Linked DNA regions of Homo sapiens: regions 1 and 2 are each linked to region 3. Evidence: fine-mapped QTL for protein levels in blood plasma. A gene starts in region 3. Each other region holds a variant in brackets. All regions are shown on one strand. Distances are from middle to middle.

Region 1 (10,841 bases), 39 kb before region 3:
TTTTTTGGTTCCATATGAACTTTAAAGTAGTTTTTTCCAACTCTGTGAAGAAAGTCATTGGTAGTTTGATGGGGGTGGCATTGAATCTATAAATTACCTTGGGCAATATGGCCATTTTTACGATATTGATTCTTCCTATCCATGAGCATGGAATCTTCTTCCATTTGTTTGTGTCCTCTTTTATTTCATTGAGCAGTGGTTTGTTGTTCTCCTTGAAGAGGTTCTTCACATCCCTTGTGAGTTGGATTCCTAGGTATTTTATTCTCTTTGAAGCAATTGTGAATGGGAGTTCACTCATGATTTGGCTCTCTGTTTGTCTGTTATTGGTGTATAAGAATGCTTGTGATTTTTGCACATTGATTTTGTATCCTGAGACTTTGCTGAAGTTGCTTATCAGCTTAAGGAGATTTGGGGCTGAGACGATGGGGTTTTCTAAATATACAATCATATCATCTGCAAACAGGGACAATTTGACTCCCTCTTTTCCTAACTGAATACCCTTTATTTCTTTCTCCTGCCTGATTGCCCTGGCCAGAACTTCCAACACTATGTTGAATAGGAGTGGTGAGAGAGGGCATCCCTGTCTTGTGCCAGTTTTGAAAGGGAATGCTTCCAGTTTTTGCCCATTCAGTATGATATTGGCTATGGGTTTGTCATAAATAGCTCTTATTATTTTGAGATACATCCCATCAATACCTAATTTATTGAGAGTTTTTAGCATGAAGGGCTGTTGAATTTTGTCAAAGGCCTTTTCTGCATCTATTGAGATAACCATGTGGTTTTTGTCTTTGGTTCTGTTTATATGCTGGATTACATTTATTGATTTGCGTATGTTGAACCAGCCTTGCATCCCAGGGATGAAGCCCACTTGATCATGGTAGATAAACTTTTTGATGTGCTGCTGGATTCGGTTTGCCAGTATTTTATTGAGGATTTTTGCATTGATTTTATCAGGGATATTGGTCTAAAATTCTCCTTTTTTGTTGTGTCTCTGCCCGGCTTTGGTATCAGGATGATGCTGGCCTCATAAAATGAGTTAGGGAGGATTCCCTCTTTTTCTATTGGTTGGAATAGTTTCAGAAGGAATGGTACCAGCTCCTCCTTGTACCTCTGGTAGAATTCGGCTGCGAATCCGTCTGGTCCTGGACTTTTTTTGGTTGGTAGACTATTAATTATTGCCTCAATTTCAGAGCCTGTTATTGGTCTATTCAGGGTTTCAACTTCTTCCTGGTTTAGTCTTGGGAGGGTGTTTGTGTTGAGGAATTTATCCATTTCTTCTAGATTTTCTAGTTTATTTGTGTAGAGGTGTTTATAGTATTCTCTGATGGTAGTTTGTATTTCTGTAGGATTGGTGGTGATATCCCCTTTATCACTTTTTATTGCGTCTATTTGATTCTTTTCTCTTTTCTTATTAGTCTTGCTAGAGGTCTATCAATTTTGTTGATCCTTTCAAAAAGCCAGCTCCTGGATTCATTGATTTTTTGAAGGTTTTTTTGTGTCTCTGTCTCCTTCAGTTCTGCTCTGATCTTAGTTATTTCTTGCCCCTTCTGCTAGCTTTTGAATTTGTTTGCTCTTGCTTCTCTAGTTCTTTTAAATGTGATGTTAAGGTGTCAATTTTAGATCTTTCCTGCTTTCTCTTGTGGGCATTTAGTGCTATAAATTTCCCTCTACACACTGCTTTGAATGTGTCCCAGAGATTCTGGTATGTTGTGTCTTTGTTCTCGTTGGTTTCAAAGAACATCTTTATTTCTGCCTTCATTTCCTTATTTACCCAGTAGCCATTCAGGAGCAGGTTGTTCAGTTTCCATGTAGCTGAGCGGTTTTTAGTGAGTTTCTTAATCCTGAGTTCTAGTTTGATTGCACTGTGGTCTGAGAGATAGTTTGTTATAACTTCTGTTCTTTTACATTTGCTGAGGAGTGCTTTACTTCCAACTATGTGGTCAATTTTGGAATAAGTGCGATGTGGTGCCAAGAAGAATGTATATTCTGTTGGTTTGGGGTGGAGAGTTCTGTAGATGTCTGTTAGGTCCACTTGGTGCAGAGCTGAGTTCAATCCCTGGATATCCTTTTTAACTTTCTGTCTCGTTGATCTGTCTAACGTTGACAGTGGGGTGTTAAAGTCTCCCATTATTATTGTGTGGAAGTCTAATTCTCTTTGTAGGTCTCTAAGGACTTGCTTTATGAATCTGGGTGCTCCTGTATTGGGTGCATATATATTTAGGATAGTTAGCTCTTCTTGTTGAATTGATCCCTTTACCATTATGTAATGGCCTTCTTTGTCTCTTTTGATCTTTCTTGGTTTAAAGTCTGTTTTATCAGAGACTAGGTTTGCAACCCCTGCCTTTCTTTGTTTTCCATTTGCTTGGTAGATCTTCCTCCAACCCTTTATTTTGAGCCTATGTGTGTCTCTGCACATGAGATGGGTCTCCTGAATACAACACACTGATGGGTCTTGACTCTTCATCCAATTTGCCAGTTTGTGTCTTTTAATTGGAGCAGTTAGCCCATTTACACTTAAGGTTAATATTGTTATGTGTGAATTTGATCCTGTCATTATGATGATAGCTGCTTATTTTGCTCGTTAGTTGATGCAGTTTCTTGCTAGCCTCAATGGTCTTTACAATTTGGCATGTTTTTGCAGTGGCTGATACCGGTTGTTCCTTTCCATGTTTAGTGCTTCCTTCAGGAGCTCTTTTAGGGCAGGCTGGTGGTGACAAAATCCCTCAGCATTTGCGTGTCTGTAAAGGATTTTATTTCTCCTTCACTTATGAAGCTTAGTTTGGCTGGATATGAAATTCTGGGTTGAAAATTCTTCTCTTTAAGAATGTTGAATATCGGCCCCCACTCCCTTCTGGCTTGTAGAGTTTCTGCTGAGAGATCAGCTGTTAGTCTGATGGGCTTCCCTTTGTGGGTAACCCGACCTTTCTCTCTGGCTGCCCTTAACATTCTTTCCTTCATTTCAACTTTGGTGAATCTGACAATTATGGGTCTTGGATTTGCTCTTCTTGAGGAGTATCTTTGTGGCGTTCTCTGTATTTCCTGAATTTGAATGTTGGCCTGCCTTGTCAATAGCCAATCATTATAAAGAGAAAGCCCTACAAATGATGTTTGGCCACTTATAAAGAAAACAAATTTCTTTGTTGTTTCAATGTGCATTTACTTATCACTGAAATTGAGCCTTTTCATATTTTCATCAGTTATTTTTATTTCTTAATTTGGGGGTTGTTTGCTCACATTTATTGCCAATTTTTAATTAGCCTGTTTTTCTCTTATTTATTTGAAACTTTATGTGTTAAGAATATTAAACAGGTTTATTTCTAAAACAAACTTCTGGGTCACCCTGAATCCTGCCCTGAGAGTGGAGGCTGGGAGTCAGACATCCAGTGACGAATTCTCTGCTGCTGCTCAGAAATGGGGTACCAATGGTACAGGCTGAGAGTCAACAGCATTTCAGGTTTCCATGGGAGTCTAGAACAACACCTTCCAGTGAGCTCTGCTTTTCACCAAAGGTGGGACCTTTGGAGTACAGGGTGCTTAACCCCTGGGGCAATTGAGAAAGGAGAGGATTTGTGGAAAGCCTTTGTCTTAGCACCTGTACATTTAGTGCTCAATTAGAAGTTACGGACAGAGAGAAGAGAGAAAAAGAAACCTCTTCTGAATGTCAGTAGCCTGGAGGCTCCTCCCTGGGTGTTTTCTTAAGTTAGACTGCATCCTGCCTACTGGGAGCACAGAGTCTGGTAAAGAAGACGGAAAGGGATAGTGCCTTTAAGAGCAATCGGAGTTGGGCTAGAAACCTGATTCAGTTGAGGCGGTCCAGGATGTCTTCACAACAGGGATGCCAATGATATCAGGCTTTGAATGGGCAGGATCTGGGCATTCACGTGGGAGGATGGGGGAGGGAAAGGAAGCTTCTTATATGGAAAGAGAATGGGCCCAAGCATGCCTTTCCGAGTTATGCCCTCACCTCCGTGCTCTGCCTATACAATGTGGGAACAAATGCAAGAGGGGGAGATGAGAGAGAACGGATGCATATGAGGAGAAAAAAGTATTCAACCGAGCCCAATCAGAAGTGCAGTAGATGTGATCTACGTCCACTTTGTTCTAACAGAACACTCTTTTTATTCTGCAGGATGACTGAACTGAGATTTCCTCTGTCTCTGTGCCACGTGGACTTGCAAACTCACAGAGCCTTCATCACTGAGGAATGTTCTTTGACAGTCACTGTTTATGAGAGCGAACCATAAATTGGGATCCAAGTAGAATGATCAAATTTAGCAAATCAAAATATAGAACTTCCAGTTGAATCTAATTTCAGATAGACAATGAATAATTCTTTAGGATAAATATGTCCCATGCAATACTGAGGATATAATTACGCTAAGAAAAAATTCGTTGTTTATCTGAAATTCAGATTCAACTGGGAGTCCTGTTTTATCTGGCAATCCTAGGTCCATGCTTCCTTGAATGGTTTACAGGCCCGCAAAGCCAATACGTTTCAATAGATTCTTAGGAAACATGTTCTAGTTTCAAAATTTGAAGTTAACATGAGAATGCTTTACATTTAATTATTCTAGATAAATTCAGAGTGTACAGCACTATTTTCTATGGCACAGAATTTGAGACCAAATAACCTAGTGACATATTTGAGGGGGAAAAGGATCCTATGCTCACTGGAGAACACACCTCATAGCAATTGGATCCTCTTTATCTCCCAGCTTCTGCAACCCAACTGCTGGAAGACAAAGTCTATACACAATGCAGTGTTTCATTCAGGGGCCCACATGACTCCATCTGTCACCAAAGCACATGTTTGGCACGGACTGAAAGCCAAAAGCAGTCTAACAAATATTTCAAAACTGAATTTATATCTTTCTAACACATGGTTTATATAGGGAGGTAATACCTAGAGAGCTTTGCAGTTCTCAAATAATATCCTGGCTCAACAACAAATGATGTATGCAGCAGACCACAATACCAAAATTATTTGCTTTTAAAACATGTTAAAGAAAGCTAAGTTTATGAGGGGGCTGGTGCCAGAGGTGCCTGTTTTAGTATGCAGTTGTTATAAAATAAGAGACAGGAATCCAAATATATCCACTATAAAATAAACATTTGCATAATTCCTTATACAAAGAGGAAACTTCCCTCTAAAGGTCCAATTGAGAATGAAATTATCAAAGGAAGCAACTCCTATTTTGATGAACTTTCAACGTCCCTTACAGCCTCAACAATCCGCATATCTCTTCCATCTAGGCAAACTGTTTCGACACCAGATCTATCAGATCTATAACAATGCAAATACTATTACATTTATCTCTGCTAAGCAGAAAAAGATTACATAATGGAACTCTCCGTGGGCAGAATCACACAGGTATGCTGGCTTGCTCTTCAGGTATGGGTTTTCTCCAGAAGACAGATTTCTAGATGGAAAATGCATATGATTGAAATCTAGATATTTGTCTTTAGAGCCAAGAAGCCACATAGTAGCCTTTGTTTCATCTTTCCTTCAACTCTGTGATTGCACGTGGACACAGCTTCCATCTAAGAGAGAGTTGAGGGTACTTGTCACTGGCCGGCCAATGATATTCTTATAAATATTTCAATGCTCTCCCTGTCCCCAAGAAGAAACTGGAAAAAA[T/C]TGAAACAACTAAAACAAAGCAGCATCCACACACTGGCACACATTGTAATTCCTAACTTTTCCAGTGTGCCCTAAAGATTACTGTTCATGTCAAGGGCTGGGTGGGGAGCAAAGAAATTGTCAAATTGATTTTCTGTGGAATCAAGCAATTTGTGTTTTTCAACTTGACAGTATCAGCATAAATCAGAGCCACATGGAGAGAAACTCTCCTCTTGAAAATACACACCCACACACAGAGTCGGCCAAGCCCGAGTGAAGCAAGTTCTCTACAAGGCTGACTTTGAGAAAGGGAGGAAGAGGGGAGAGGAATTCAGCCCCGGGACAGAGACAGCTGCCTGGGCATGGCCACCACAACTAGACTCACCTGGCCCTGTCAACTCCATCATTCTAGGAAGTTCCTGCTCCAGAGCCTGACTCTGTCCATCTCTTGGAGCATTTTCCGCAGTGACCTGCATGTGTGAGCAGCTGTGTCTGTTGTCAGTGGCAGTCTTGTGTCGGATGTCTCCCAGTTGCCAGGCACTTGACAGATTACAAAGTGCTTCCCACATGTGTCACCTCACATCGGTGCACAGGAATGCTGCAGGAAGTTTGATTCATCCCATTCTACTGAGCAGGGGATAGGGTGAGTGGGAAGTGAGCCTTGGAGGCCGGGCACCTGGCCAGAATTCACGCCTCTGGCAGTGGGCAGAGCTCAGGCTCACATCCAGGGCTCTGCCTTGCCATGGGTACCTCAGATCCAGAGTATCCTGTGACCTGAACTGCTGCCGACCCCCGGAGCCCTGCCCCTTCCCCTGTCCAGGCTCTCCTGCATGGCACCTTTGCTCATGCTGGTCTTCCATCAGTCTGGGCCATGTTCCCCCACCACAGTGTACCCATATCGGTCACATAGTGAAATGAAGCAGGGTGTGGAAAGCAGGCCATGGCCAGGATTTCAAGCGAAGCTAGGCTGTGGCAGAGGTGTCCACGGGCAGTGCCCTCAGCCCGGAGGCCCAGACCCCACCTGTTCAGCCCAAAGCTGGCACCAGACAACATGTGCCCTGCTCCCCCACCCCACCCTGCCCTTCCCTTCTGTCCCAACTTCCCCCTTTAGTCTCGGCTTTCCTGCAGCTGTCCGGACCTCACCAGATGTGTCCTGGTTGTGACTGGCTTCTGGGAGCTCTGTCCTCTGCCAGCCCTATCCAAATCAAGAGGGTTCCCACTGGATAGGCCAGTTCTTGGCCTCACTGGTGGTCACCATCCTGCATGCTTGCACTACAATGGATCCCTGTCTGAAGCCTCCTACAAGAAATGGTCCCTCCTGCTCTGGCCCTCTGGTGCTGGATTTCCCTGCCTGACACAGAGCCCATGCATGGCATGTGCTTACTACCTGGCCACACTGGAGGGGAGCTGACTCCTTGCGACAGAGACTGCCGCTTCCTCTCCTCGGATCCCCCAGCACTGCACCTTGGACCTCCCACATGCTACATCAACATGCTGAATAGATGTGATAGAGAAGGGGGAGGTCCAGAAGCCCTCCAGTGACCTGCATGAAAACACCCCCTGGTTGATGGGTTTGGATCCAGGATCCAGGAACAAATCTCAAACCTCCTCATCAAGACAATGCCTTCAACTGTGCATTGCTCTCCCTGCACCCCCACCCCCAGTGAGAAGTGCTGAGTGCCCAAAGACTCTAGTTGGCTTCAGGGGTTATTTATAATCCCCCCACTCCAGCACTCAGCCCTCATCTGGCCTTTGGACACACACAGGAAGAGTGGACTGAGAAAGTACTCTCGGGTCACTATAGGACTCCGGCCTCGTCCCCTCTGCTTTAGACAAAGACTCACTGAGTTGTTCAGGGACTTCACTGAAGACCTCCGGCCTCAAGCCTCAGAACCCAGCACTCAACAGCACCCCTCAAAGGGCCAGACACACCCAGCTGGCTTGATGGAGGTGTCCTCGGCGGTGCTGACACTTAACATAAGGTCAAGGGGGGAACAAATTATTCACTTTTCAGTTTCCCGTCAAGCCCTCTAATTAGGAAAAAGTCCATTTGGTATTCCATGCCTAAAACCTCCCAGCCACTGGCTCTCTGCCCTTTTTCACAAAGAGAACAGGTCTTGGGCTCAGGGACACCAACAGACACTATTGTCTGGCTGCATTTTAATAACATTGTTTTGTTTTCCTTCAATTTATCTTTATAGTATTTATGTCAAGTGATACTGGCCTATTTAGAATATTGAAGTACAACTTCCTTCTTAAACAAATTTAAGCAAAATGTGTATACTGACTTAAAGTTTAAGATAAATTAAGAAAAATTAAGATAAACTAAGAAAAGCAAACCTGTGTATGGCACAGGTGATATACATTTATTAAAAAGTCATGAAAGTAAGTTCTCAAATGACACCAAGTTAGGAAACTTGGTACTATATGAACTGCTTGGACCACAGCTGGTCAGCGTTGCTATGCATGTAATTACTTAATGGCTGTCTTGTGTCGGATGTCTTTCAGTTGCCAGGCGCTTGACAGTTTACAAAGTGTTTCCTGCATCTGTCACCTCACGCCAGTGCACAAAGATGTCACAGTAGGTTTTATTCACCCCATTCTGCTGAGCAGGGGAAGGGCTGGGTGGGAAGTGAGCCTTGGAGGCTGGGGACCTTGCCATAAACAACAGGAATAAACAATAGGGTGTCACCACCATGGCAGTGATGTGATCCAGATTCAAGGTGGGATATAAGAATGTACATTCAAAACAAGCTCCCAGGGAATGGTTTCAGTGCAGACCATTTGGTAGACCAGCAGTCTCAGAGACCCTAGCCTTTGAAACAACCATCTCTGACCACCAGCTAAAGTCAAAGCACAAAGGCTGCTCTTGCTGTGGGTGCATCCTCACTGTGATCAAAGCAGGCTTCTCTCCACTGCTCCAGAACATCCTTCCTCCCATTCGTGGAACATCAGAGCATCTCCTGCATACCAAATGCAGCCCACAGATTCAAAAGGAATTGCCATCACTCCCTATACTTAAATGGCTGTAACACCCTATGAGTGGAGACTTGAACACTGATATCAATGAGCTCACAACCTCATGGATGGATCATTGTGTAACCAGGAGCTTTTATTTAGCACCAGCTATGTGCTAGGCCAAGTCCTTGAGGTTGGAATCAAAGGTCACATGCCTAGATCTGAAAGATGTTACGGTACAAGTGGGGAAAGCAACAGTGTCATACTAAGATGGTGGAGCTCCCAGGGAGAATGTCTTCCACAATCTGGAGAAAGGAGCCAAGGCTGAAGTGAGAGGACAGTGGTGAAGGAGGTTTCCCAAGGGACACAGGCTACTAGGCACAAAGGGAGGGTCTGCAGTAACAGCATTCAAGGTTCAGAAAGCAACAAGCACAGACAGGCACTCAATGATAAACAAGGCAAATGCTGTGTTTACATTAGTTTATCATTTTTTCCATTTAGTTTGCTGAGTATCTCAACCTGTTTATTAAAGAGCTGAGTTTTATGAAGGTCTCTGATAGCAAAATAAATAAGAGATTTATGACTCTTCTAATACTAACCACTATTTGTGAATAGACAAAGCTAATGGAATCCAGGTCTAGCCTGGTCCTGCTCATGTATCTTTCAAAAGATTTCATAATGAACTCTCCAGAGTCCTTAAAAAGAAGGGAAAGCTCCCTGCGGTAATCAATTGACTGCTCTGGCACAAACAGTCATCTGTAGGCTTCCAGCTGCCCTTATTTTGAACAGCATATTTTCCAGGGATAATACCCTTTTACAAGTCTACAAGACCATGTCTTAATCCTGGCCAGGGGAATCATGTTGACAGAAAATTCCAAATCCCTAAAGGAAGTTAACCAATTCAAACTTGAGATGCCATATTTGAAATGTTTTTTATAATGTTAACAAGCTTTTTTTTTTTTTTAAAGAAAAAGATATTTGCATTTCTTTACTTAGACTTATTTTTTCATTGATACTTCATCCTCCCTCCATCAAATCCTGCTCCTTTACTGGTTTGGTGTCTATCTTTGGACAAGTAATTTGGCCTTCCAGATTTGCCTTCCTCATCTGAAAAGTGATGGTAAATTTATGGGTTGTCACCTGGTTTCTTGGGGTTCCAAGAATATAGTACTGCAGTTCCAGGAGTCATTTTTATTAGAGTAAAAGCCCTAGAATATATTTTGCAATAATGTTAGTTAGTTTAACGCAATTGGCTCCAGCCCTCTACCAAGCCTCAGCTTTCAAGTAACTCATAGTCCTGTGTTCTGGAAGTAGGGGGATGAGAGGATTCAGAAGTTACTGCACATGGTATCTGGCATGCAGTAGAACGTCTGCGGGAGATGGAGAAAGGTTGGCAACCACAGGACTGAGTGAGTTTCTAGGATCTGCTGCATCTCAAAAATTATGTAATTGTTTATGTTTCATAGTCCTTACTGACAATTGTACATGCAAATTTCATTTAAATTATAACTAAAATTTTCATCATTAGCTTTTTTTAAAAAAATTAGAGCTTTAATGAGAAAAGATAATGTTTAATGCCAAGAACAAACTGGTTGATGATTCTAAAAGAAAGCTCCACCACATAGACTTTAGGGGGAAAGAAATTTTGATAAAAATCTAAGTCTTTTAGTGGATACTGCAGAACTGACTATGGCAAGATTTTGAGTAACCACTGCTAAAGTTTGTTTTTTTTTTAATGAATACTCAAAGATATATTTAACCAATGAAATTCTAAATCTGTACTCATTTTATGTTGGAGGGGAGGCAAAATAGGGAGATGGGAGCTTTTCACATATTTATATTAAAACTTGCATTGATCTTGGAATTCATAGTTCACAGAAAATCTGACCCACAAGAGTTCTTATGTCAATTGTCAAATAGCAATTCCCCACAGGAAAAAAATGTTGAAAGGTAAAAAATTTTTATAATTGTGTTGAGTGAATTTATACATCAAAATATATGGAATGAAACCAAAACTCGACTAACAAAAAATGTATAGTTTTAACTGCTTTTATTATCAAGAAATATGAACATAGATGAACTAAACATTCGGCCAAAAAATCACAACAATAAAAAGACAAAGGAGTTAAGAAATAAAACCAGAAATGACTAAATTAAAAGCTATGAATAAAAGGAATAGTGTTGATTAATAAATCCAAGACTAAATTCTTCTGACAGGCCAAATACATATCTAAATCTCCGACAGGTCTAAACAAGGGGAAAGATA
Region 2 (10,841 bases), 300 kb before region 3:
GGTCTCAAACTCCTGACCTCGGGTGATCCACCCACCTCGGCCTCCCAAAGTGCTGGGATTACAGGCGTGAGCCACCATGCCGGCCACAACTTTTATCATTCATTCCATAACTAGCTTGCTGAGCTTTTCCAAAAACAACTTAGCCATTCTTAGTTCACAGCCAGTTCTACATATTCCTAGTCCCTTGAGAAGCATAAGCCCAACATGAATTCCCTCTTCTCTTCCCAAGTGAGAGCGAGGTCCTCTTACAGTATGAGGGGGCAGGGGACCACAGTGTGGGGAATGGACATTGCTTGGACAAGCTGCTGACCAAAAATTCTAGGGCCATCTTCAGGAAAATCTTCAGGTCTTTCCCCAGTTATGCCCAACAATAAAAACTTTCAATCACCACACACAGAATTTATGTGCAACCAAGTAGCACGCCTGGTAGGCCAGGGCGGTGGCATTTGTACTCGCAGGTGACCGGCCTCATGTTCAGTGCCGTGGCAGGCCTGCTGTGGATGCAAGGAGGTCATCTCATTTTAGGGGCTTTTTACTCCATGCTGCCTGGAGCGGGGCTGGCCAGGAGCCACCATTTGTTTAGTGAAACCCTGCTGGGGACCAGAAGCCTGGCAGACATTCTCTCACTGACACCTCTGGGAGCCAATTATGACTCCTATTTTAGAGATGAGGAAGCTGAGTGCAGGCAGCTTGGGTTCCTTGCCGGGACCCTGCAGTTCCTGCGTGGAGACTGAAAGCACAGATCTGACTAGAAGGCCTGTGTTCTTCCCACTCAACCACACCGTCTCGAGGGCTATCAGGAGCTGCCCCAGGGCAGGGCCTCTGGGCAGCCTCAGGCATGACCCAGCACAAATGGCTATGCCAGCAGCAGTAGTATCCATGGGTTGGGAGAGGCAGCTGCTCCGATGCCTCGGGACTCCCTGGAGCCAGACGTAAACAGAAGGAACACCCAAGGTTCTACACTTCCTTCCAGGTGTACCTTAGAGGACTTCCCTAAAGGTCTTTGGTGTAACAGAAGACAAAGGCCCAGTCTTGGGATTCATCCAGCTAGCCTGAGGTGATACCTGGGCCAGATCGTGCACACCTGAGGAGGGCTGCAAGCCTGTTGAGACCCTAATGAGCTGCAGGCAGGGGAAATAGGCGCCCCGCCTCAAAAGCCTCGTGACTCCTCCTCATGGTGTGATGGGAGAGGGAGCTGGGCCTGAGTCAGCCCACTCTGCCTGCCCAGCGGTGCACAGGGACACAGCTCTGACCACACAGGCTCAAACGATAGAACAGAACCGAGGCTGAAGCTAATGGGGCAATCCATCCTCACGTCCACTCCAGAAACAGAAAGTGACTGCCTTATAACTGGACGCTGAGCCAGTGGGCCAACCAGACGGACCACAGAAAGCTAAGAAAACCACCAGGCCAGGAGCAAATGACCAGAAAGATCCTTAGTAGGCCATTTCCATTGTTAATAGCAAACACCTGGGCCCCAGAATGCAGCCATCTGCAGCACATTATAATTCATGGTCTTAACTTGTGAACTTTGACCTCTGCTCCTCCTCCCTGAAACCAATTTAAGTGCAAATATAATTTCCCAGAATTTTTAATAAAGTCACCAACTGAGCTCTGGTCAGTTGAGACATGTACAGGAAGCTTCTGGACGTTACCAGAAAGTGGACTTTTCACTTCTGAGCTACGATGGCTATTTCTTCCTGCACCAAGTCCTGAAAGACCAAGAACCCAGGGGCGGGGGACACAGTGTCCATATTAAAAGGACCTCAGCCCATCAGAGGCCATGTATCAGACGAGCTACTCAGCTTCATTGCAAGAAATGACTGCTGAATTTGTGTGGGGGTTGTTGGAGGAGCAGACTCTCGTAGACATGGACAGATGCAGTGGTTAATAATGGACAGTGGGCATGTCTGAAATGGTACCACCCTTTCTTCCTAGCCCAGTAGACAGACCTGCACAGAATACGCTAGTTCTTTCTGCTGACTTAGCAAGCCTGTAACAGGATAGAGGCTTCTAATCAAACATGATAGAAAAAGCAGTCACGGTAGATATCTACAAGCCTGCCACCAGGGCTGAAGTCTACATGTGCCCAGTTCTTGCCCCACTGAGCAACTGACACTGAAGTTACCACCAGGGCAATGTGGAACTCAAGAATGGGAAAGAGCTGTCCCTCTCAACCCTCCCCATCCCCAAGCCTGCGAGCCAAAGGCTCACAGGTACCCAGTGAAAGGCCAAAGAATGGATCAGGAGCCTGAGGCTGCAGGCTGAGATCCAGAATGACCCTGACCACCTGTGGGCCCTCTGGCCTTCCTGAGCCTCAGTGTGCTCACCTGTAAAATGGAGACGATTGTACCTGTTCTTTATTTTTAGGGCTGTGACAATGAAAGGAGATGCCAAAGATCTTTGTAAACTGGAGAATGGTTCTACAAAGTCTTATGCTCACAACTGCTTTTAGATTTGATATTTTTGATCTCTCTCTTCCCACTTTAGCTAAATTAAGCAAAGACTTTCAGGGGAAGGCCCTGCTGGAAAGACTCTACTGTTTGAAAGCAAATTGTTTCCCTCACCCAGGTCTCCATGGATTATGTACAGAAAAGCAGTGGACTCTGCCTCCTATTTATCTGGGTTTTCTCTGCTCTATTTTGTTTTTATTTTCTTCTATTTATTGTATTGTGTGTATCATTGCAAACTATTGTAAATCCATTGTAGAATGATGTGGAATAAACAAAAAATGAAAATGCTGCTGCTGCAATTGCTAGATTTAGTACAAAAGACAGTGGCCTCAGAGCGTTCTCCCCAGAGATTTTGCCATTACACAGATAAGGAAGAGAAAACCTCACTCTGCACTTATCTAATTGTGCTGTACTCATCATCGCTCTCTCCATCCGCCCACCCAGCCAACGTCTATCCATCTGTCCATTGTACCATCTATCTATCCATTATCTGTCCATTTCTATCTATCCATTATCCATTTCCACCTACCCATTATCCATTCATCCACCTATCCACCTACCTATCATTGATTTATCCATCTACCCATCTTTCCTTCTTTCCATCCATCCTTTGTCTGTCTGTCCATCCGTCCATCCATCCATCATTCCACCCACCCATTATCCATTCATCCACTGACCCATCTACCTATTATTTATCTATCCTTCCTTCCTCCCATCCATGCATCCATCATCCAGCCACCCGCTCATGGATCCTTTCAGTCAAGAAGTATTTATTGAGCTCTACTATGTGTCAGGCACTGTTCTAGGTGCTGGGGATTCAGCAATAAACAAAACACAAATTCCTGACCTTGTGGAGCTGAAAATGAGTCCTTTTGGATATTGTCTGTTGTAGAGAAGTCTAGAAATAATCCTTTACCCTACACTGTGGCCTCTGTGCCTGGGGAGAGGAGGAAGCCATGGGGGTAAGTGTGTGGGAGGGGGATTGCAGGATTGGCAGGATTTCAGCTGAAATGTTTTCACACATGCTGTACAACAAATAAAATGCTGGGTTAACGAGCCAGTGACAGGAAAGCATTCTCTGCTGTTGGAACATAAATTGAAGGAGGTTTGCAGAATTAAATGGCTTAAAAATGGGGCTACCTCCCACCTCCCAGAGGTTGCACAGGGACATGGCTCTGTACTGAGGCAGCTTTAGTTCTCTCATAAAGCCCAGATGTGTTCACGGCCACTTCCATGTGTCAAACACACTGGGAAAAAGCCGCTTGACTTTATGTCCTGGGGCTTCTACTTAGGTCGGTCTGGAAAAATGCAAGCAGTTCATTTAACACTCTGAGCTCCAGTAATATGGGTATAGTTGGCCAGGTGCGGTGGCTCACACCTGTAATCCCAGCACTTTAGGAGGCCAAGGCAGGTGGATCACTCGAGGCCAGCAGTTTGAGACCAGCCTGGCCAACATGGTAAAACCCCATCTCCACTAAAAATACAAAGAATCAGCCAGGTGTGGTGGTGCACGCCTGTAATCCCAGCTACTTGGGAGGCTGAGGAACAAGAATCATTTGAACCTGGGATGCAGAGGTTGCAGTGAGCCGAGATGGCCCCAATGGACTCTGCCTCAAAAAAAAAAAAAAAAAAAAAAAAAAAAAATATATATATATATATATATATATATAAAATAAAATAGGTATAGTCATGACCATCTCACTAAGTTCATCCATGGGCCAGGTGCGTGGCTCACACCTGTATCCCAGCACTTTGGGAAGCCGAGGCTCACAGATCACTTGAGGTCAGGAGTTCCAGACCAGCCTGGCCAACATGGTGAAACCCTGTCTCTACTAAAATACAAAAATTAGCTGGGTTTGGTAGTGTGCACCTGTAATCCCAGCAACTCGGGAGGCTGAGGCAGGAGAATTGCTTGAACTGGGGAGGTGGAGGTTGCAGTGAGCCAAGATCGTGCCACTGTATTCCAGCCTAGGTGACAGAGCGAGGCTCAGCTCAAAAAAATTAAATTAAATTTAAAAAGTTCATCGATGAAACAGGACACCATGAATGCAGTCCTTCAGGGTCAATATCCCCTAAACTGGATATTCAAGGATCAGTGGCCACACAGAATCAGCCTCCCGAGCTTGACCTCTATTTTGTGTACAGCTTAACGGGGAGGACAATTCTAACTTGGGCAGCAGCTTTTCATATTCTAATGGAATTGCACACAAATTCTTTCATTTTCCAGTGAGCAATATCTAATTACATGGAGAAGAAACAAGAACAGGCTGCATATTGATGCGCCCTTCTTGAACTGTTTTCAAGAATCCCTCCTGCCAGTTCATTTTTCCCTGTGATAATGTCGGGGTACAGCTGACTCCATTACTCTGGCTGAGTAATTAAATTGATTCTAACTAGTAGTGTTTTCATCTTACCAGAGTTCCTCATTCTGTAGCTGTTCCTCCTTTTTTCTCTCTCTCTGGATAAAGATTTCCATTTTTTCACCTAACACTTTGAGGAAGGAAATGAAGATTTTCTTAAACTTTTCATTGAGAAAAAAATTATCACTCTCAAATGAAGAGTTAAGATGGAAAAATAATTCCCTTCAATTCCATCTTGGTAAAATTCCAGCATGACAAATGTATTTCATAATCTCCAACAGCACCCCAAAGTTCGAGGGAGAATTCTAACGATATGTATTGTCCACTGATTTTCAGGAAAGCAAGTTCTACAGAGTGTGGACTTTCCCGCTACATTGAATTTCTATCAATTCCTACCACTTCCAAAGCCCTTGGGGGATTTTTTTCACTGAAAATTGCAGTTCATTTTACCCTCTTAAAACACCTTTTCAGGCAGAAATCTCTTCCAAGAGAAATCCAGTTTTCCCACAGTATGAGGTAGGAATTTTCAGGGAGCGGTCTGCCCAGCCTGTATTTAATTCTTCCGAGATCGGTTTAGACTGGACTCTATTCCAGGATATCTTTTCTGCCTGCTGCCTCTTCTAACCTTTGCTCCCTGTTTGCAATAAATTATTGGTCGCTTTTTAAAAGATGTGAAATGATGTTATGGTTATAGATTTTTCTCTCTGTCTTTTAGAGGCCCACACTGAAATCACTTCTAGATGGTGCTTGATACCCGGACTGTGTAAGCAGATTTGATGAGGTACCCTGCAGTGAGGTCCCTGAAGTCAAGGATCCTGCCTTGTGTTTCTGTGCCTGCTCCGAAACTGCTCCCCAGGATCTGGCCTCTAGAGGGTACACAGTAAATACTAGTGGAGTAAATGAGTGGCTTTGCTCTGCCTGGTGGCCAGCTGCGCGTCTGTTGACCTCATTTCCTGTAGCAAGCTTGTCCTGAGTCAGGGGCAGGGCTGCTGTCTTCTCTGATGTCATTAGAGAAGGCCGAGGCTGTGCATGGTCACTTACACCTGCATTCCTAGCACTACGGGAGGCTGAGGCAGGCGGATCACTTGAGGTCAGGAGTTCAAGACCAGCCTGTCCAACATGATGAAACCCCATCTCTATTAAATATACCAAAAAAAAAAAAATTAGCTGGGCATGGTGGTGTGTGCCTGTAATCCCAGCTACTCGGGAGGCTGAGGTGGGAGGATTGCTTGAACCTGGGAGACAGAGGTTGCAGTAAGCCGAGACTGTGTCACTGCACACTCCAGCCTGGGTGACAGGGAGAGACTACATCTCAAAAAACAAAAACAAAAAGAGAGAGAGAAGGCTGACCTGGGTGGAGGCCACCTAGACCTGGGGACACATCTGTTTGTGTTCCGTGTCCAGGCAGGTGTGCCATGAATGTGTCCTGAATGGAATTAAATGTAATCGAATGGGCCAGTTATACATGCTTGCGGGGAAGTAGGATGGCAACACATTCTCCTTAAACGTGGTCATTTGATCTGGGTGTAGATTGCAGAAGGTCTGACCTCAGCTTAATGTGAATGATTTGCACCCCAGGAGAGCAGGGGGTAACCCTCATTTGCTTATTTTCTCATCCCACATTATCCTCAGTGCACAACACGAACACGCTGCCCGCCCC[A/C]ACTCCCAGTTGGCAGCTGGGGACACACTCGTCAGTTGAAGCCATTTGCCAGTATAGACCCAGCAAAACCCAGACAGGCCCAAACTCCTGATTTCAGCATCCGTGTGACAACTGTGGCAACAATTCTTTTCAGATACACATGAAGAAAATGTGAATGTGCTCCTTGGTGGCTCTCTGACAGAATCCCTAAAGGATGCTCACTATAGGAAAAGGAAAAAGAAATCTCAAACCAAAAGAAATATTTTACATCAAGTGTACAAGGCTGGAGAGGTGAGTGTGGAGCGTGGCGTGATGAGCACCGAGTGTGCTGGTGAAGGATCCTTCCTCTTCACAGTTTCCAAATGCCTATGAATTACACCAGAACTAAACTAGAATTCACACACTATTATTACTTGTTCTTCTAAAGGAAGCCTCCCTCTTCTTTTTTGTACAGACAGAAAACCCCTTAACTTGGCAAACTACAATATCTCAGAGGCTGCATGGTCTTCTTAAAAATGAGGAAACCTTAAAAGATAAATCAGATCATATTCCTATCTTGCCTGAGAAGCTTCAATGATGTCCCGCTGCTCTGCAGATAAGAATCCACGTTCCTGCTCTGGCCAACTGGGCTTTGCTGGCTCTGGTTCCTCCATTTCTACCCAGCATCACTTCCCTCCAGCCCCCCACAGCCCCAAGGCTCCTGGCAGCAAGGTGTCCCCACAGCGCCCACAGGCCCATGGTCCCCTGCACCTGAACTCCCTTCCTTCCATGCTTTGCAGGCTCTCCATCCCTGTCTTCCTTTTGGCCTCCCCCAAACCCCCACTTAAAGTGGGCTCCCTCACCCCATGTTTCCTCTCTTTGTCCTCTTCCTTTGCTTCCTTCACAGCACTCCTTCCAACCTGCAATTTATTACTTTTATTTTTTTATTTTAAAAATAGAGACAGGGTCTTGCTATGTTGCCCATGCTGGTCTTGAACTCCTGGCCTCAAGCAATCCTCCTGCCTTGGCCTCCCAAAGTGCTGAGATTACAGGTGTGAACCACCACACCTGGCCCAAACTGCAAGTTTTAAATTTTCCATTTTTCAACTCTTTTCACCACTAGAACACCAGTTCCAAGAGGGCAAGAAACAGGCTTGTCCTGTTCACAGCTGTGTCCCTAACACCTATCAGTGTGTAACAGTGGCAGGGGCTCGGTGAATATGACTTGCAGATTCACCTACCCCACCCGAGGAGATGGCCCTATTCCTCCAACTCTCATTTAACAGAAACTTTCTGCAAAAAAAAAAAAAAAAAGGAATCTGTAAGAGTCATTTTTTGAATGTTAATATTGCCTTTTTTCCTACTCTAGGAAGTGACATTTACTATTACGCTAAATATTCTTTGCTATGAGTGTTCAAGTCATTCACAATTTTCTTACTCCTATAAATGCAGCATACGTAGCCCTCACCTCCCTAAGACCAAGGGCTCCAAGCTCATTAATGGATAAACTCAACTGAGTTAAACTCCCACATGAATCCCCAGATACTGCTTTTGCCAAAGAGTCATTTCCAGGACAGGTCTTAAATGTTTAGAGACATAAAACACACACTCTTACACACACTTAAAGCCTTGCAGTAATTAATGATACAATCCATAAGGAACCCCCTCCAACCATCCCTGCAATGTGCAACTGAAGTCACACAAGTCTTAAGTTGAAATAGGACTCTATCCTTGTATTTACAGGCCTCAGGTCCCATTTGTCAGTGACAGCAATTGGTTAATGTTTTCAGAGTTAGGATTCTGGAATGTTTTGATAAAGAATAAACAAGGTATATGAAGGGATATACTTTTCTCCTTTAAGCCATCTACAATACTTGGTTCTTTTTGATTCTGAGATGTTAATATCATTAAAGCAGTTACTGATTCATCTCTGAATCACCTTTGGAGCTGAGACTGAATTTAACTGACATCCCCAAGCCTCCATCAGTGGTGGGAGGAGGAAGACACAGGCTGGCTGGTGTTTGGATGTGGGCCAGTTTAAAGTGAGCCATCACACGGAAACTGTGGACATGCTGCTGAGTGACTGCTAAGGGCACTGGGAGTCTTTCCAGCAATGATGAGTAGGAATTCTGAAAAAAGCCTTTAACTTTTTGATAGTTCCAAAACCCCTGTAAGCTAAGTAATAATATACTACCTTTGTGGAATGATTTACAATTTACAGACATGTGATCTCATTGAGTCCATTCTCCCACTCTCTCGGAGACACTATGAGGTAAGAGAACCACCATTTTGAGATAATACCGGAGCAGCCGGGAAAACTCCACCACGGGTGATGGATGACTGAGGGTTGACTGAGCCGCTCGACCTCCCCCTCACTGTGGGCTTTTGTGATTAATTCACCTACTTGCTTAGGAAGTTGCTTTCCATCTGAGAAAATTAAAAACACCACTCTCTGGACAGGAATGTGGGATCATAAATGAGAAGCAAATAGAAAAGATTTATACAAAAGCACAAGCTCAGCAAAAGAGAAAACTCAGAAATTGCTAATATGGTATAAATCAAATAAAGGCTATTAGCAAACCCCTGGTAATGGGGGAAAAAAAAGCCTTTTAAATGATTTGTCGAGCTCTTAACAATACCATTTCTACCTACGGTGTTCAAATATCTCTGGGGCGATCTGGCTTGCATTCTTCAGCACTGCCATGAAGACTTTCCAATTGGAAAGGATTTAGATAAAACCATATAGAGTGCCAGAAAATATGCCTTGCTATTGTGCCTTCAGAATTATATAATTTTTAGAGCTGTAGAGTCTTCATCATCTGTGCATTCCTCCCCACGAGCACAGGGGTCAAAAATATTTGTTTAATATGTGAACAAGTGGGTGGAGAGACAGATGGAAAGAAAGGAGGAAGGAAGGGTGGATGGGTGGATGGATAGATGGTTGGATGGGTGGATGAAGACTGACTCACTCATCTTATTGATGAGGAATGTAAGAGCCAGGGGGTTACTAAACTGCCTATATTATTTTAAAAAATGGTGTGAGAATTGGGACAACCAGATCTCTTCAAGTCCAGTGTTCTTGATCTAGGTTTTCCTCTCTTCCATTGGTTTATCAATAATTAAAAAACATTAACAATATTAACAATATGATCTTCTTAGTCATGGGAAACCATTTCTGGAGGCCCATAGGCTAATGTATTTGTGCCCATCTGATGATCAGGGAAATTAGACACACAGTGCATTTTCTATGGCTATGAGTTCATTGAGAGTGAGAAAACACGAAGGCCACTCAGTTGCACATCAGTCTCCTGCCAAACTCACTGTCTGAAAGTCACCCAGCGTGTGGCCCAGCATAGCGATCAGGGCTTGTGAAATGTTGGAAACAGAAGGCATCTATAGGCCCTTGGCCCAACCTTATACCCTAAGAAGGAAATCCTTGCCCCAAATGTCCAGCAAACAATTACTGTGCTTCCTCTCAGACACCTTTAGTGACTAGGAACATATTACTTTTTAGGGTGGCCTCCCTTTTGGAGAGACACACATGTTAGTATCTTGAGTTTTGCAATATTTCATTTCCTATCGGTTAGTACTTTGACTTTGTGTACAGATCCTTGGTTTCTGTCATTACACACTCACAAAGCAACTTCCTCAACAAAGTCTTGGTGACTCCCTTGAATTATGCTTAAGAGGGAACCACAAACAGAAAGATGCCCCTGAAGCCTCTGCCCAAATGGGGGCGATGAACATGAGGAATCAGTCACTTGCTGTAAGAAGATGCCTCCTGATGGCTCCCATGAAAGGACAATCCCCTGATGAGCTGTGTGGTTCTGCTCAGTTCTTGTTTCAAGGGCAACTCAATGCCCTACAAACTATTTCCCAGGAGGCCCACAAGGCTATTGCTTGAAAAAGCACAGACACATTCTTTAACAATTCCTCCCTCTACTGGGTCTTTTAAACCGCAGTAGCAGGTATCCCCTCACACCACGCTTGTCCCCTGGCCAGCAAGTCTTCACAGAGATGAGTCACTGGGCTGCTCAGAGCACTTGCCTCTTGCCCCAGTGTCTCCTTTTGGGAAACCCAGAGAGCAGGCTTGGGCTGGAATGTTCCATGAAAGTCAGTGTTCATAAGGTTTCAAGGTATAATAAAGAAGATAGCATTGTATCCAGCGCATGCTTCCCGTTACTAATGAGAATCTTCTTAAACTAGCACAAAGTTCTAGTTTGGGATAGGCCCTTTATAGATATAAGAACACATCTGAATCTCTAATCCCTCCAAGGTGCATCTGTTTCCACTTCGTTTGAACACTCCAAATAATGGAACTGTCTTGCTCTTTTCTGGTTGAACCAAGTCGGGAGTGTCAGGAAAGCATTAAATAAGGAACAGCATTGTAATATACCAAAGCAGAGAAAT
Region 3 (10,841 bases):
AGCCTTGACCTCCTGGACTCAAGTGATCCTCCCACCTCAGCATCCTGAGTAGCTGGAACTAAAGGTGTGTGACACCTTGCCCAGTTAATTTTTTAAAAATTTTTTGTTGAGATGTGGTGGGGTTGGGGGGTGTGGCTCACTATATTACCCAGGCTGGTCTTGAACTCCTGGGCTCAAGCAATCCTCCTGCCTCAGCCTCTCAAAGTGCTGGAATTACAGACATGAGCTACCGTGCCCAGCCAAAAAATTTAAATAGAAGGGTTGGGAAATGAAATTAAATAACTGTCCCAGAAAGTAGAACAAAAATGTAAAGGGATGAAAAATAGATAAGAAAATTAAAGGATGTTTTCAGGAGGCTGGGACATTCAGCTAATAGCAGTTTCAGAAAAGCTGTGGTAAAAACAGTGAGGAAGAAATAATTGAAGAACGAATATAAGAAAGTATACTAAAACTTGACAACATGAATATTCAAACTGAAGGGGCCCACTGAGTTCCTAACAATTACTGATAAGAGCATTGCTAAAGCACATAATCATAAAACGCAAAAATACTAGTGACAACGAAAAAAGATAATCACTTCCAAAAAGAAAAAAAGACTACATTTAAAGGTTTGACAAGCAGAATACCATCAACTTCTCAAGCAGTAATGGCCATAGAGACATTGAAGAAATGCCTTATAAAATACTGAGAAAATATGATTTCTTTCTTGGAATTTTATACCTAAACAAACTAGCAATCAAGGGTGGAATGAATGAATGTGTGTTTATCTATATATTTTATACAAGGTATGCCAGAGACACATTCCAACCTTTGTTTTTACTCACAGAACTGTTTTGTTTGAAGCAGCAATGTACATAGTTAAAAATATTTACTTTTCTAGTATTCTGTACAAGCTAGCAGGGGCCCTGGGTCACAGTCTAGCCAATGATATCTAAGACAAAATCTACTACAAACGCTTATGGAAATATTATTTTCCTGATGAAAATAGATTTGACTGGTTCTGCCTTTTGTCCTTTCTGCTGTATTACTGCCTGGAATGCAGATATGATGCCAAGAGGTACAGCAGCTATCATGAGACCATGAGGAAGTAAGCATAAAGGCAAAAGTCAACATCTACGTATCGCAGATAGAAATAAAAGAAAGTGCTTGGGTCCCCGATCACATCAGTGACCTGACACACCAGTTACACCAGCCACCAAAATACTTACTTTGCAACTGCTTGTAAAGAATACGAGCTTGTAAAAATTGCTGCTGTCATGTTTTTTTGTTATTTGCAGCTGAAAGCATCCCTGACATATTCACAAGTTATCAAAAAAAGTTGTATCTTCCCAACACCCATCCTCAGGAAGTTACTGGAAAACGTGCTCCACAGAAATGAGGAATGAACTAAGAAAAATTTACAGTGCTCAGAATACAGATGATTCAACACAGGAAGGATGCAAGAGGAATTCTTAGCGTCTTGGTAATAAGGGTAGTCCTGAGATAACAGCTGTAATGTATGCCTAAAAAGTAACCCGTGAGTCACATTGGAACAGGAGGATGAGGGGCTCTAGGAAAGATGACATCAGGAAAAAAAAAATCATGGCTAGACTACCTGATGTGTTGGATCATATTGAAAGGAGGTTGATAGTTCTTCCAGAAAGTGTGGAAGTAAAATAGAGGTTGCGTAAGGGATGGGAAAAACCAAAAACCAAGTATTCTCCCTACTCTCACTCTCAGTACCGAATGTTTCACCTCTGGTCACCCAAATGTGTGGGAGTTTCTCCCCACCAACCACCAGTTCTTCAGTAGAGATCAACTGGGAGTCCTACAATTTAACTCTATTCTGACTCTATCTACCTGGAGAAAGCATCAGATCACACAGGTTAAGGGCTCAGTCCCACAAGACTTCCCCCCAATGTCAGATGCCAATCACAAGTAGTAGGTTGTCACACCTATACTTCTGACCAACTAGCTATAAGTTGGGGGTCCACAACCCCCTTCTCAGGTTCAGTTAATTTGCTAGGTAAGCTCACAGAACCACAGAAAACACTTGCTTATATTTACCAGTTTATTATATTAATGAAGGATGTAATTAGGGACACAGATGAAAAACAGTTGGAAGAGATGCAAAGGGCAGAGAATGTGGAAAGGGATACAGAGCTTCTGTGTCCTCTCTAGATACGCCACCCTCCAGGAACTTTGATTTGCTCAGCAATCTGGAAATTCTACAAACCTTGTCCTTTGGGGGGTTTATGGAGGCCTAATTACACAGCCATGATTAATTACACCATTGGCGATCAAGTCAACCTTCAATCCGTCTCCCCTCCCTGGAGGTTGCAAGGGAGGTGGCACTAAAAGTCCCAACTCTAATCATGCCTTAACAAGCTCATTAGCATACAAAAGACACTCTTAATACCCCAGAGATTCCAAGGATTTTAGGAGTTCTGTGCCAGGAACCAGGGGCAGAGACATATTTCTTATTATATCACAATATCACAGCTTGGTGCACAGAAAATAAAGCAAACAAAAATCAAGACAAGGCAATCATTAACTCTAGGAAAAGCAAAAAGTTACAAGAGGGATGAAATGCCATAAAACACTGCACGGCAAAACAGTGAAAAGTATTTGCAAAGTCTTCTTAGTGCAAACATTGAATTTTTTTTTAATGATGGCACTACTATATTGGGTAGTTGAAAAGAAGAGAAGGCAGTGTGTCTGGAGTAGGGTGAGCAAAGGGAGAATGGTAAGAAAGGAGATCAGAAAGGAAAACAGGAATTAGGTCATGCTGAGGTTTGGATTTTCTTTCCTAAGGGTGCTAGAGAGCCACTGGGGAGTTTTAGACAGGAAACTTGAATGCTCTAACTCATGTTTGAAAATAATAACTTTGGCTCTATTGTGGAGGAAAATATACCATGCAGGGATAAGGTGAAAAGCCAGTAGGCCCGTTGGGTAAGAGGGATAAGAGGCTTCTGCAGAAGAGATTTTTCCTATAATGTGGCCTGGACTGGGAAAGGCACACTTCGGGATGTAAGGAAGTGGGTAGGTGGGAATATACTTAGGAGGTTGGTGGCTTACGGAGTAAAAAGAGGGACACAGGGATGACTTCCTGCATGTCAGCACAAGGCATGTGGAGAAGGCAGAGGAGGTTGTTACTGGGTTCAGGAAGGCTGGGGAGGGAATGATTTGCAACTAGAGAGTCTGGGATCTAGGGTTCTGTTTTGGACTTGTTAGGCCGAGTTGCCCCAGAAAGTACCAAGTAGGCAACTGTGCCAGGGCTCAGGGTACAGACAAGGCTAGGGAGAAACTCAGAATATGCTCAGACTCAACAGGTAGTAATTCCTCCTTTTCTCTTGCCAATGCAAAGAAATGTTTCATTATATGTTTGGCGTTTTATACGGCCTCAATGGTATGATTTGGGGCACTGATTGATTGAAGACTTGATACTGAGAATCTAAGGGTAAACAAGCAGTGAATCCTGGAATATATCACAATAGGTAACCCATTCAAAGTGCTTAGGCCTCCCTGGTTTTCTATTTTGGGTCATATCTGTCTTAAGGAAACACTCTCTCTACCAAAGCTGAACTCATAAAATAGTAAAAGTCCTCCCCCGCCCACACACACAAGAAATAATTTCCCATTATTAGCTGGATTTAATAAACATTTTCTTCCAAAAAAAAAATTTGTCCCTGCTCAGTAGACTTCTCTTTATGTGTACAAAGCACGTGCCAAGTTAAAGACCATGTCAGGCACACTTTGAGACACTTTCCGTTTTTTAAAAAGTTCTTTCTTAATAAACATTCAAAAGGACCAATTTGTTTAAAAGTCTTTCAAAGCACAATTCACTACAGGTCGTAGAGTTCTTTAAACCCTCAGCAGGATTCTTTCTTGACTTTCTCATTGCTTTGTGCAATCTTTGTATTTAATCATTTATCCCCGAATTGGTCTTCGCAGTGTGGCTTTTAACAAGAACTGGGTTTTAGCCACATTACAGTAGACGCGGTGGGGGCGGAGGGCAGCAGTGGCAATCGCAAAATAAAACGTATCATAAAGTGGTAACGGTTCGTGATTTAGGCCAGTTGTTGAAAAATAAATGCCTGTTATATAGAATCACAGAACTTGAGAGCTTGCGGCCAAGGGAAGTCGTTCATCGGTGGACCGACAGCGCCCCGGGCGGCAGAAAGAAGGCGGCGGCGGCGGAGACCCGGGGAAGTTGCCGGATTTTTAAAAAGGCACCTGCTGGGTGAGTCCTCACTGTGCAAACGGGAGCCACAGGTGCCCGATTTTAAGGGGCTACAACTCGGGAAAACCTAAGTCTGTAAAACTAAGTACGTTAAACTAAGTAAGTTCTCGCTGTGCACCAAGTTGATGGGGGCGATTATTTACGGCGGAGAAACTGAGTGGAGGAAGGAGGGAGAATTCCGCTAAAGTTTGCCTGCGACTGACAGCTAGGGAGTGACCTGGAAGCCAGGAAGAGGGGCAGAGAGGAAACTAAAGAAGTAGGTAAGAGAGTCAGTTTATGAAAATAGAGCCTGCTGTGGAGAGCAGCAGGCACACCTGCGGAGGAGGGGGCTGCCTCACCTGCGGGGCCGCTGCGCGCCCCCCTAAGTGTGTTAGCGGGGGAGGCGGGGCTGGAAAGGAAACCTGGTGAAGGGCTGGCCCGGAGCCTGGGGTGGGGATATTCACTGCGGGATAGGGCCAGCAAGAGGACCCGACACGCATCGTCCCGAGTGACACGTGTAAATGTCAAGATACAGAGACATCTGCAAATGTCACCCAAGAGGGTGAGGACGGGGGAGCGGTCCCGAGGCTGTGCCCTCCGGGGCAGGTACTGGCTCCTGTGGGGCTGCGGGCCAAGTGTCGCCCTTCCCCAAGGAATTGGCACCTGGGGGGGGGGGGTCGGTCTCGCCGCGCTGGAAGCGCAAGCCCCGGGGCTCCGGAGATGCGCCGGGGCGCGTCGCCCCTCGGGGCAGCCCTGGACCTCGGCGCGCCCAGGCGCAGCGTGCGGTGCCCTCGGCGGGGCGGGCAGCGAGCCGCCCTAGTTCGGCGACTTACCTCGGGCCTCGCAGGGCGCGAGCAGAGCACCGGCCAGGGCGAGCAGGAGGGCGCGGGCGGGGGACACGGGCAGCGGGCGCGCTGCCATCGTCGCCGGCCTTCAGTGCAGCAGCTCTCGGGCCCGGCGGCGAGCGCTGCACCATCCCACGCGGGCGCCGAGCCGGGGCCGGGCGTCGCGACCGGAGGGATTTCCTGCCTCGGCGAGTCAGCTCCGGAGCCCTCGCGCAGCGCCCGCGCCGCCGCTGAGCTCTTCTAGCCTTTCATTTTTAAAAAAGTTTCCCCCCGTGTGTGTGCGTGCGTGCGCGCGCGCGCGCCGTTCTGGCACAAGCCAGCCTTGACCGTTGCAATAAATGAGCAAACTGTCCGAGTTGGCCCGGGGACTAGGAAGAGCGTTAGTGAGAGAAGGCAGGCCTGTGAAATGGATCCACGGCCAGCAGTCACCGTTCTTATTACCGCGGAACAAATTATTGTCTCCCCCGCACCCCCGCCAGTTGGCGGCGTCCCGCGGGTCCTAGAGACCGCTCGGGTCCCCCCGCCAGGGTCCCGCCCCGAGCCGCGGCTCGCTCACCCCCGAGGGTGGGCGGCTCAGACGTGGCTCAGTGGCGTCCGGGCGCCCGGAGCGCACACGTCCCCGCCCCAGGATGATGTGGCCGCAGGGCCCGGGGCGCCCGGCTGCCAAGCGCACATGCGGCGGCACGGTCCAGCTTTTCAGGCTGAAGCTGGAAACGATGACTCTGCTACTCGCTCCCCGGCTCTCTGGGAACCCTCGGAGTGCGGGTCAGGTCTCCACCGCGGCCCACAGCCCGGCGCGCGACCCCGCCCGGCCCTAAGCGCCCAAAGGGGCATCTCTCGCCCGAGAAACAAGCTTGGACTCGCAGGCACAAGACACCTGGGCGTTACTTTTGATCAACAGTGTTAGGTTTTACGTTGATAGATTGGCTCACGTTTCCATTCCATGACCTGGACCCAGAAAAGGGTGTACAGTGACGTTCCCCAAACTTTCCTGATTGTAAGAAGCACCTGGGTTGGCTTGTTAAAAAGATTCCCGGGCGCCCTCCTACGCTTTCAGAATGAGACTCTCCAGGCTGTGAGGCCAGGGGAGCCCAGGGTGTTTGGAGAAACACCAATGAAAGAATGGTGCGCCTTGCCTTCTCATCCTTGTTCCGGGCTGACCCCACCTCTTCAGCCTCGCTCGGCCCTCAGGGAGACCATGAAAAGCAGCAGCGAGGGGGCCCGCACAGACAGAAATGGCTGGAGCTATGGAGGATGGCTGATGCCCACCCTGCGGGTTACCATGATTCCCAACCTTGGGGACTTATTAGAATAGTAAGAGTTAAAGACATTGCCAGCCCCAGACACCAGTTAACTCAGTTTCCCACAATGCGTGGAGCTCAATAGTTTTCAAAGCCTCAGGTGATTCTACTGTGCTGCTCAGACCTAGGACCACCTGCAGAAATTCCATCCTGGTCCTGCGACCTCGCACCGATTCCTGACGGAGCACCCACTCCTAGGAGGCGGTTATCCAGCATTTGAGGAAGCTGCCTTCCATACCATCTCTTCCCACTGCAGAGGAGTTTTCTCAGGAGTTCCCTCCCACGGCAGGTTTTGCAGTGTTCCCAAAACCCAGGTCGATCCTCCTAACAAGGTGCAGGACTTTCTTTTTAAAAAACCTTAGTGGGAAGCACAGGCTCTCCAGCCCCCTTCCCAATGCTGCCATATCTCAGTACCAGATCTGGAAACCAGGCCTGGTTCAAGCCCTGTGTCATATCTAACCGTACTACCAACCAGCGTTGCAGTGTACTTCTTTTGTTCATTCATTCAGTCAATCTACATGAGCAACCCTATGTTAGAACTTGGGAAACTAAACGAGAAAGCCTCTTGCCTTCAAAGACTTTTCTTTCTGATCAAACTGATAAATCATCATTATTGGACAGTGTGAGCTAGTTACTTAACCTAGTTAATAATGATTAGGCTTGTTTACTGATATGGTTTGGCTGTGTCCCCACCCAAATCTCATCTTGAATTCCCATGTGTTGTGGGAGGGACCTGGTGGGAGGTAATTGAATCATGGGGGCAGGTCTTTCCTGTGCTGTTCTCATGGTAGTGGATAAGTCTCAAAAGATCTGATGGTTTTAAAAAGAGGAGTTCCCCTCCACAAGCTCTCTCTCACTTTCTGCCTGCTACCATCCATGTAAGACATGACTTGCCCCTTCATGTCTTCTGCCCTAGCCATGTGGAAATGTAGGTCCATTAAACGTTTTTCCTGTATAATTTTACCCAGTCTTGTGTATGTCTTTATCAGCAGCACGAAAACAGACTATTTACTACTTCATAATTCATTACATACCTCGTATAATCGGAGTATTGTGCTAACGTCTTTCACCTGCATTATTTCATTTTTTAAGTCCTGAATATACAGATGAGGAAACTGCAGCATAGAGATGTAGCTTTCCCACCACCACACAGTGAAGTAGGTCAGAGCCCAACCTCAGATCTGTTAAAGATAAAGCCTGTTTCTTTAAGGCTGAGTTCCAACCTTCAGTTTTAGCAGCTGTTAAGTGAAGGTAAAATACAAACCTCCCAGGTGGTTGTGAGCACCAGGTGAAATAATGCAATGTCTCCCAACCCACCTGATCCCTGGGATGTCTGTTAAGAATTCAATTCCTCTGGCGTTTGCACTGGAGATTCTCATTAGAAAGGTCTGGGAAGGACAAGTTTTAGCAAGTACTTAGGTGATCCTGATACTTGTGGCCCATAGAACTTCAGACACATCGACGCAAGAGAATTAAAAATTGTTTTCTTCCAGCTCAAAGGGCCAGATTTGCTTGCAGATGAGCCCAGCCACTGGCCTCTCGGATCCTTCTGACTGGTTAAATGGTTTATTCACAATGGACCTAACATGTGCTGTGCACTGGGCTGGGGGCCTTGTATACATTTTCTCTTAATGATCAATTTATTTTCGCTCTTTCATATTCAATTGTTAATGTTGACTGTAAAAGTCCAATTTCTTTTAAACCTGGATGTTGCAAAGCTTCCTCCAAAGAACTAAATGTGCCCCAAGACTGTCCTTGATTTGTTTCTGACTGAACGAAAGAAAACAGCCATTGCAGAGGAAAAATGAAGAAAAATAAAATCCTGGCTGCAAGCTCTGGATTTCAACCCTGTAATTCACCATCTCTGTGAAGCAAGCGGCCTGGGCTGACACTGTCTCCACAAAGCCTTCATAGACATCAATAACAGCCAGCTAAGGCAAAGAGCAAATCCTGCGTCTGGCAGATGGTCTGTCTTTGGATGGAAATTCTGCCTCCTCATTCACAGGAAATGGAAGCCGACATCACATTCAATACTGGATTGTTAGGTAATGGTGTGGGGTCAGAGGCCAGGATCTACACACGAAAATTTCAGATAGATGGCTGGTTGTCCCTTCCTTTCTGGAAGAATTGACCTTTGCAATACTGTTTCCTGTGTGCTATTTTCGTTTAACAGCCTGGGCATTCACAACGAACAGGGCACTTATTTCTTACCCAAGCTCATGTAAGCTCAATCTGCTCTGAGTACAAGCAGATGAAAAACGGAGACAAACTTTCCTAAGCCAGGAATTTACAGGCAGCCACTGCTAATTTCTGCAGTAAGTGAAGAGCCGGCCTCCTTGCAGAGTGACCTATTGACAGAACTTCAGACACAGGCTTGCAGAACAGCTTTCCTCTCTCCAAGCACAGTTCCCAAGGCTTACTCCAAACGTAAACAAATGTGATCACCCCAAGATTAAGATTCTTGGAAATCATTTTTATTCTATCTCTTGGAGAGATGAAAACTCCTGCTCCTCTCGGCGTATTATAATAACATGTAGTCCATTTTTCTTTTCCTAGATCTCTCACTTCAAGAATCCATGCCTTCACCTCCTCAGAAACCTGCCCCCAGTGAACCTCTTCTGGGCAGATTAAACCCTCTTGTCTCTGATGCTTTCATTATTGCACAGAATTAGCACTTAAGTAGCACTAAACGCCAAAGAAAGAATGCTCCTGGGGCTGGGGACAAGGAACTCGGGGATGCGCTGTGTCACAAGAGACAGGAAAGGTCACCCCATCTATATTCATCTATGTCACCTACCCACTGACCAGTCAACTTCTCCAACCAAGTGACAGTCATACTTCACTTAACAAAGATACATTCTAAGAAATGCATCATTAGGCAGTTTTGTCGCTGTGTGAACATCACAGAGTGTACTCACACATCTAGGTGGTACCGCCTACTACACATCTAGGTTTTATGGTATAACCTGTTGCTCCTAGGCTACGAACCTGTATGGCACATGACTCCACTGAATACTGTAGGGAATGGTACAGCAAAAAGGCAGAAAGGTACAGTAAAAATACAGTGGAAAAGATTTTAAAAAATGGTACACCCGGATAGAGAAGCTCCATTATAATTTTATGGGAGCATCCTTACAAGTGCTCAAGTGCGTACCACGTGATTGACCAAAATGTCATTTGGTGACTCATGACTGTACTGTGATGGGAAACTTATTATGCCCCTCCCTACACACCCCCAGATTCCATTTTACGTACCCCAAGTGACTGACAGTACTAAGAGAAACAGACACCTCCTGGAGCAGCAGCAGCTGCTGAGACAGCCTCCTAGACCAGGTGCTTATCTCTCCCGCCATCAGCGGGGGCAGGCTGAGTGCAAAGCCAGCACACAGCGAAAGGAAAAGGGGAATCTCAAAAACAAACATGAACTATGACAAGAATGACCAAACATTTGAGGATACTTCATTTAAGAAATAGGGCTGGCCGGGTGCGGTGGCTCACGCCTGTAATCCCAGCACTTTGGGAGGTCGAGGTGGGCGGATCGCGAGGTTAGGAGATCGAGACCATCCTGGCCAACACGGTGAAACCCCGTCTCTACTAAAAATACAAAAAATTAGCCGGGGGTGGTGGCGGGCGTCTGTAGTCCCAGCTACTCGGGAGGTTGAGGTAGGAGAATGGTGTGAACCCGGGAGGCGGAGCTTGCAGTGAGCCGAGATCGTGCCACTGCACTCCAGCTCCAGTCTGGGCAACAGAGCGAGACTACGTCTCAAAAAAAAAAAAAAAAAAAAGAGGGCTTAATCATCTTCCCTTTTCATGTGGGCTGGGCTTAGTGACTCTTTTTTTTTTATTTCAATAACTTTTGTGGTACAAGTGGTTTTTGGTTACATGGATGAATTATATGGTGGTGAATTCTGAGATTTTAGTGCACCTGGGACCCAAGTAGTATATGTTATCCCTGATGCCCCTCCCATCCTTCCCCTTCTGAGTCTCCATAGACCATTATACCACTCTGTGTGCCTTTGCACACTCATAGCTTAGCTCCTACTTATAAGTAAGAACATATGGCATATGGTTTTCCAGTCTTGAGTTACTTAGAATAATGGCCTCCAGCTCCATCCAAGTTGCTGCAAAATACATGATTTTATTCTTTTTTATGGCTGAGTAGTATTCCATAGTGCATATATACCACATTTTCTTTATGCACTCATTGGTTAATGGGCATTTAGATTGGTTCCATATCTTTACAATTGTGAATTAGTGACTCATTCTAACAAAACGCAGCCTAAGTGAGCAGTGTGTAAGTTCTGAGGCCAAATCATGAAAGGCATTTCAGCTTCCTCCTTGACTCAGGTTGCTCGCTCTGGAGGCAACCAGCTGCCATGTCGTGAGGAGCCTCAAGCAGACCAGTGGAGTAGAGCTGAGGTGGGGAATGAGGTTTCCTGCCAATAGCCATGTGAGTTAGCTACGTTGCAAGTGGATCATTCAGCCCGTCATTTT

Alleles and levels. Positions count from the first base shown, and alleles are read on the strand shown. Strength reflects both the effect of a copy and how common the allele is.
As copies of C replace T in region 1, the plasma level of the protein whose gene starts at base 5,454 in region 3 goes down (moderate association).
In carriers of allele A in region 2, the plasma level of the protein whose gene starts at base 5,454 in region 3 tends to be higher than with C alone (weak association).

Evidence for each region. A credible set is the group of variants that fine-mapping cannot tell apart. PIP is the chance, under the fine-mapping model, that this variant and not a neighbour inherited with it causes the effect. Protein levels are from antibody-based Olink assays in UK Biobank. Linkage for the fine-mapping came from a reference panel and not from the study's own genotypes, which makes the PIPs less certain.
Region 1: its variant is the best candidate, but not a certain one, in a credible set for the plasma level of the ADAM12 protein (UK Biobank, PIP 0.62).
Region 2: its variant is the best candidate, but not a certain one, in a credible set for the plasma level of the ADAM12 protein (UK Biobank, PIP 0.77).

Annotation. Positions count from the first base shown.
Region 1 is chr10:126,344,510-126,355,350 of GRCh38, forward strand. The region is part of intron 1 of ADAM12 (ADAM metallopeptidase domain 12); the gene reads right to left. Among named protein-coding and RNA genes, the nearest start is that of ADAM12, 39 kb to the right of the region's middle. The variant T/C (reference allele first, on the strand shown) is at 5,639.
Region 2 is chr10:126,082,585-126,093,425 of GRCh38, forward strand. All of the region lies in intron 11 of ADAM12 (ADAM metallopeptidase domain 12), which reads right to left. Among named protein-coding and RNA genes, the nearest start is that of FANK1-AS1, 110 kb to the left of the region's middle. The variant A/C (reference allele first, on the strand shown) is at 6,474.
Region 3 is chr10:126,383,024-126,393,864 of GRCh38, forward strand. ADAM12 (ADAM metallopeptidase domain 12) reads right to left here and starts at 5,454. Exons shown (of 23, transcript NM_001288973.2): 1 at 5,035-5,454. The coding sequence starts at 5,122.